Regions from separate parts of the Homo sapiens genome. Here region 1 is linked to region 2. The links come from fine-mapping of genetic effects on gene expression. A gene starts in region 2. The other region holds a variant in brackets. All regions are shown on one strand. Distances are from middle to middle.

Evidence for each region. PIP is the estimated chance that this variant, and not a neighbour inherited with it, causes the effect.
Region 1: its variant is fine-mapped to the expression of MAOA in blood mononuclear cells (TOPMed, PIP above 0.99). The same link has a PIP of 0.9 or more in T cells, monocytes and whole blood.

What each region holds. Positions count from the first base shown.
Region 1 is chrX:43,727,090-43,730,012 of GRCh38, forward strand. MAOA (monoamine oxidase A) reads left to right here. Exons shown (of 15, transcript NM_000240.4): 6 at 1,084-1,225. Among named protein-coding and RNA genes, the nearest start is that of MAOA, 72 kb to the left of the region's middle. The variant C/T (reference allele first, on the strand shown) is at 1,674.
Region 2 is chrX:43,655,231-43,658,153 of GRCh38, forward strand. MAOA (monoamine oxidase A) reads left to right here and starts at 1,069. Exons shown (of 15, transcript NM_000240.4): 1 at 1,069-1,184. The coding sequence starts at 1,112.

The DNA.
Region 1 (2,923 bases), 72 kb after region 2:
TCCTGTATGAGGTGTCTGTTGGCCCCTACTGGGAGGTGTCTCTCAGTCAGGCTACACGGGGGTCGGGGCCCACTTGAGGCAGTCTGTCCGTTATCAGAGCTCAAACACTGTGCTGGGAGAACCACTGCTCTCTTCAGAGCTGTCAGGCAGGGACATTTAAGTCTGCTGAAGCTGCACCCCCAGCTGCCCCTTCCCCCAGGTGCTCTGGCCCAAGGAGATGGGGGTTTTATCTATAAGTCCCTGACTGGGGCTGCTGCCTTTTGTTCAGAGATGCCCTGCCCACAGAGGTGGAATCTAGAGAGGCAGTAGGCCTTGCTGAGCTGTGGTGGGGTCCGCCCAGTTCGAACTTCCTGGTGGCTTTGTTTACACTGTGAGCATAAAACTGCCTACTCAAGCCTCAGCAATGGCAGATGCACCTCTCCACACCAAGCTCGAGCATTCCAGGTCGATATCAGGCTGCTGTGCTAGCAGCGAGGATTTCAAGCCAATGGATATTAGCTTGCTGGGCTCCATGGGTGTGGGACCCACTGAGCCAGGCACCGGAGGGAATCTCCTGATCTGCCAGTTGTGAAGACTGTGGGAAAAGCGCAGTATCTGCGCAAGAGTGTACCGTTCTTCCTGGGACAGTCTCTCACAGCTTCCCTTGGCTAGGAAAAGGAAATCCCCCAACCGCTTGCACTTCCCAGGTGAGGCGATGCCCTGCCCTGCTTCGGCTTGCCCTCCATGAGCTGCACCCACTGTCCAACCAGTCCCAATGAGATGAACCAGGTACCTCAGTTGGAAACACAGAAATCACCCACCTTCTGCGCGGATCTCACTGGGAGCTGCAGACCGGAGCTGTTTCTGTTTGGCTGTCTTGCTGGACCCTTGGCTCCTTTTCAACTCATAATTTCTTAAGCAGGAGAAAATGTTAGTTTCTCCAAGAGTTAAAGAATGCATTCCTTCAGAAATTGAATCCTTGAGAGTTTTTTTCAATTGCAACAGAAAAACTTTCTGAACACACTAAATCGTGTTGTAAAAACATGACATTCTCTGACTCCTGTACATATTGACACCTGACTTCCACTTTTGTTCTATGAACAGGACTGCTAGGCGGTTTGCTTATCTTTTTGTGAATATCAATGTGACCTCTGAGCCTCACGAAGTGTCTGCCCTGTGGTTCTTGTGGTATGTGAAGCAGTGCGGGGGCACCACTCGGATATTCTCTGTCACCAATGGTGGCCAGGTATGGTGTGTATGTGTCTGTTCTGAAACAAGAGCTTCATCTGTGATTTTGCTTTCTCCCAGGGCAGTGTCTTTAATAGTTGCTTCAGGATTTTGAAACATGAATAATTAGCAGCATGAAATGATCTCAAAAGATTTTCTGAAAAAAAAATTTCTCATTTCCTTTTGTCACTCCTGAAAAGGAGTTCACAGATAAAGAATGTTTCATTTTGAATTAATTAGGTTTTGAGAATTAAGTTCCTTCCTTTTGGTAGCAGGTAAAATTAGGCTGTTTATGTAGGAGAAGCTAAATTCCTAAAATAATTTCCAAAAAATTCTAGAAATTGTACAATTATTGTACTTAAAATCATCTCTGTTCTAGACACAAGGTTTCTGTCCCATCTGTTTATCAGAGTGATTCTTTTATGTTAACTGCTACAGAAGGGAAGTGACTGTTCTTCCTTCTAATT[C/T]ACGCAAGTGATTATGGCCACTCTTGCAATAGTAAATTCTGCCTTTTGGATTCTTAGTTTTTGCTACCCACTTGAATTTGCCCAGTTTCCATATCATTTCCTTTATTAATAAGTGAATTCATTTCGTTCATTGGCTGGACACATGGCGAAGCCAGAATCCTAATTCCCCAGACTCTGAGATTCTCTGCTTCAACCCTTTCTGTTATCCAAAGAGAATGGGTATCTCTGTTCTATAAATGTTGTGCTTGGATGGTATGAGGTTTAATTAGTAGCAGTTTACTTCTAACTTAGGTTCTCTGAGTTCCTGAATTCTGAGTGCACAGTACAAGGTATAGAGTCTTTCTCTGCCAAGTGAATTATTCTTCTCCTGAGGAGATCACCGGAAATCCCCAAGTTCTTGTGACACCAAGACTCATTGCCCATTTGACCCTTAGCCTTGACAAATGCAGGACAGTTGCATTTTTTAAATGTCTTTACCTACAGGCAGAGATGACAGATTACTCCTTTTAGCCAGTATTTTACTTTCTGAGGTATTTTGATTTACATTTGATATTTGTTTCCTTCATTCAGAGGAGCCAGGATACTTCTAGCCAAATTCTACATGACCTTTTGGAAAATATGGTTCAGATGATTAATCTCAAACCATGGTCACAATATTTTTATAAAGAACTTAGGCTTATCCTGTAATTTAATTCAACAAATACTAGACCTGGAGGGGTGGACAGTGAACAAGACAGAAACAGTTCGTGGTCTTTCCACCACACTAAAACTCAAAGTACCTCTTAGAAAACAGACCAGATTATAAGTTAAATGGTCTGGGTTTCTTGAGGAAAGACAAATCATGAATTTAGGTCTGAACCACTCTGGGAATTTTTTTTCCTTTTTTTAATTTAATTTTTGAGACAGAGTCTTGCTTTGTTGCCTAGCCTGGTCTCCAACTCCTGGGCTCAAGCAGTCCTTCCGCCTCAGCCTCTCAAAGTGCTAAGATCACAGGCATGAGCCACCATGCCTAGCCAGGAATATTTTTTATAAAGAACTTTGGTGTTGTTATTAAAACAGTAGCCAGTTACAAAAGTGCAAAAATCACTGCGTGGCTGCTTATGCAGTTTTCTGGAGGAGTATGATTGAGGAATCTGTTAGGAATCTTCTGGCTGGGCGCGGTGGCTCACACCTGTAATCCCAGCACTTTTGGAGGCCAAGGAGGGTGGATCACCTGAGGACAGGAGTTTGAGACCAGCCTGGCTAACATG
Region 2 (2,923 bases):
AAGCCGGGGGCACAACTGCCCAGGTCCCGAACCCGGACTCCAGCTTGGACGACACCTCCTACAGCCTGTCCGAATGGAGCGTCCGTTCTGAGTGGCGGTCCGTCTCGGATCCGCTAGCCAGTTCCCAGTGGAGCACGTCCTCAACTGCCGAGGCCGCCTCCTGGAGCTCCAGCATACACTCCCCAATCAGCACTACCGGTCTTAGCGAGAGTACTGACTCCGACTCCAAGAGTGGCCTCCGGGGTTTCAGCGCTTACAACCCGAGCAGTCGGATCCCCAAGTCTACCACCAGCTCGAACTCCTCCGATGGGGCCGTCACAGCCTCCAATCAGGACACCGGCATTCCCTGGGTATTAGTAACAGGACCTACCCCGCCCGTAAACTCCCCCGTAGAGTCATTGCAAGGGTCTGCCTTCTCCTCAGGGTTCAGCACCCCACGGGGTTTGGTAAAAGGACCGACCCTGCCCCCGGATTCCAACCTGACCTCAGTGTCCGACTACACTTGGATATTTGTACGGGGACCTCCTATACCCAATGACCTTTCGCAAGTGTCAATACAAGCACCTCCTACACCCAGTAACACCCCCGAGTGTCAGTACAAGGGTCTGCCGCATCCTCAGTGTCCAGCTTCCCCTGGGGTTTGGTACCAGGACCACCTCTACCCAATAACATTTCCCCAGTGTCGCCACAAGCACCTCCTGCACCCCATAACATCCCCCCAGTGTCAAGGCAGGCGTCTACCCCCACCTCAGTGCCTGACACTCCGCGGGGTTCAATACAAGAACCTCCTGCACCCAGTAATCCTTTCCAGCTGCCGACACAAGGACATTCTAAACCTAATAACTCTCGCCGAGTGTCAGTACAAGGGTCCGCCCCGCTCTCAGTGCCCAGCTCCCCCCGGGTATCAGCTGAAACATCAGCTCCGCCCCTGGGCGCTCCCGGAGTATCAGCAAAAGGGTTCGCCCCGCCCACAGTGCCCGGCTCCCCCCGGGTATCAAAAGAAGGATCGGCTCCGCCCCCGGGCTCCCCGGGGGAGTTGATAGAAGGGTCCTTCCCACCCTTTGCCGTCCCCACTCCTGTGCCTACGACCCAGGAGCGTGTCAGCCAAAGCATGGAGAATCAAGAGAAGGCGAGTATCGCGGGCCACATGTTCGACGTAGTCGTGATCGGAGGTGGCATTTCAGGTCAGTGTGGACCGTAGCGGTGGCCTGGGGGACCCTGGCCAGTGAGGGGTAGGGGAACCTACAGTAGCTCTTGTGGTGTTTGGGGGTCTCTCATGCATGCGAGAGTGTAGTGTAGCCATGGCTTGGCCCCATATCCTGCGAGGTAGGAGTGGGGGTTGTGCCAGTTTTGCTGGTGGTGTGACTGGGGGAGGCAGACACAATAATTTTACTACTACTACTATTAAATACTAATATTTAATTAGCTCTTGCTGTGCAGTTGTATTTAGCACTTTACGTGGATTTTCTCAGTCCTCAACAGTCCTGTGAGGTGGGAACTAAATTCATCCCCGTTTTGCAAAACCAAGAAACTGAGGTCTGGGGAGTTTCAATAACTCTCTTGAGGTCGAATCACCTAGCTTGTAAGTGGCTGAACGATTTTCTCCCATTTAAGACCTGCAGTACTAATTCCTGAGGTGGCTGCTTTGCCTCACTGATTTCATATCCTTTGCCCTAAACAGAACATCAGGATACAGATTTCTGTAGTATTGAGGGAGCAGTAGTGTTATTCCAGTCCTGCTCTTCTCTATTTTCCGTAGAAAATTTAGTAGGTGAAGAGGAAGGAGGTAGACTCCTTTAAGAAAAGGTTAAAAAAAAAAAGAGGAGAAGAGGGGGTGAGCTCTTAAACTATTCCTGTGTGTGTGTGTGTGTGTGTGTGTGTGTGTGTGTGTATGAACTGTGTTTATATATATATATGAACTGTGTTTATATATATATATGAACTGTGTTTATATATATATATGAACTGTGTTTATATATATATATGAACTGTGTTTATATATATATATGAACTGTGTTTATATATATATATATGAACTGTGTTTATATATATATATATATGAACTGTGTGTGTGTATATATATATATGAACTTGCAGGAAGGTGTAGGACATTTATTGTCCAAAGAGAATCCCTTTATGAAGCAGGGGCTGAGTGCCCTGTTGTATCCTCCTTCCTCCTTTCACTAAGAGCTCCCACCACCTGAATCTTGTCTTCTGATGAGCCAGTTGGTGGGCCAGGGTGCCCCTGGTCCTGGCTTGGATTTGTGGCTAACCAAGTGAGTGGTGCATGAGGCTTTCCAATATCTTCCTGGAAGCCTCATCATGATTGATATATTGTCGCCTATGTTGCCATCATTGGTAAAATGTTTGAAAATTAGGAATTTTGTTGCCTTTCATCCCTGGCTAGAATACCACACTGACCTATCCTCCCCCTACTAGGTGTTAATAATTTCTGAGTTATCCCTGCAGGATCTGATTCAGAAAGAGAAAGCTGATGGGAGGGAGTAAGTAGAGTGGCCCCACAGTAGCCATTTTTATATATAAATCTTTCGAGGAGACTCTGAACATGCTACAAATTAATGTTGGGTAGAGATAGCTTTATCTGAACCCAACATTGTTTATCCTGAACAGGCCAAGAGAAGAGATTGGCATGAACTGTTGCTTTGCCAGTTCCAGCCAGTACCAGCAAAAACATACATGTATGTTGGAGCATCAGAGGAAAGCAGCTCCTGGTGGAGAGTAAGAAAAAGGAGTATTTCAGCTTGTTTCTCTTTATTTATTTATGTATTTATTTATTCATTCAAAAAACACTTGTTGAGTACCTGCAATGAAGTGGACTGCTGTTTCCCAAAATCTGGTCCCACTAGGCAAGCCTCCTAAAAGCAATATGGTTGTAGATCACTGGAAAATAAATATGATGACA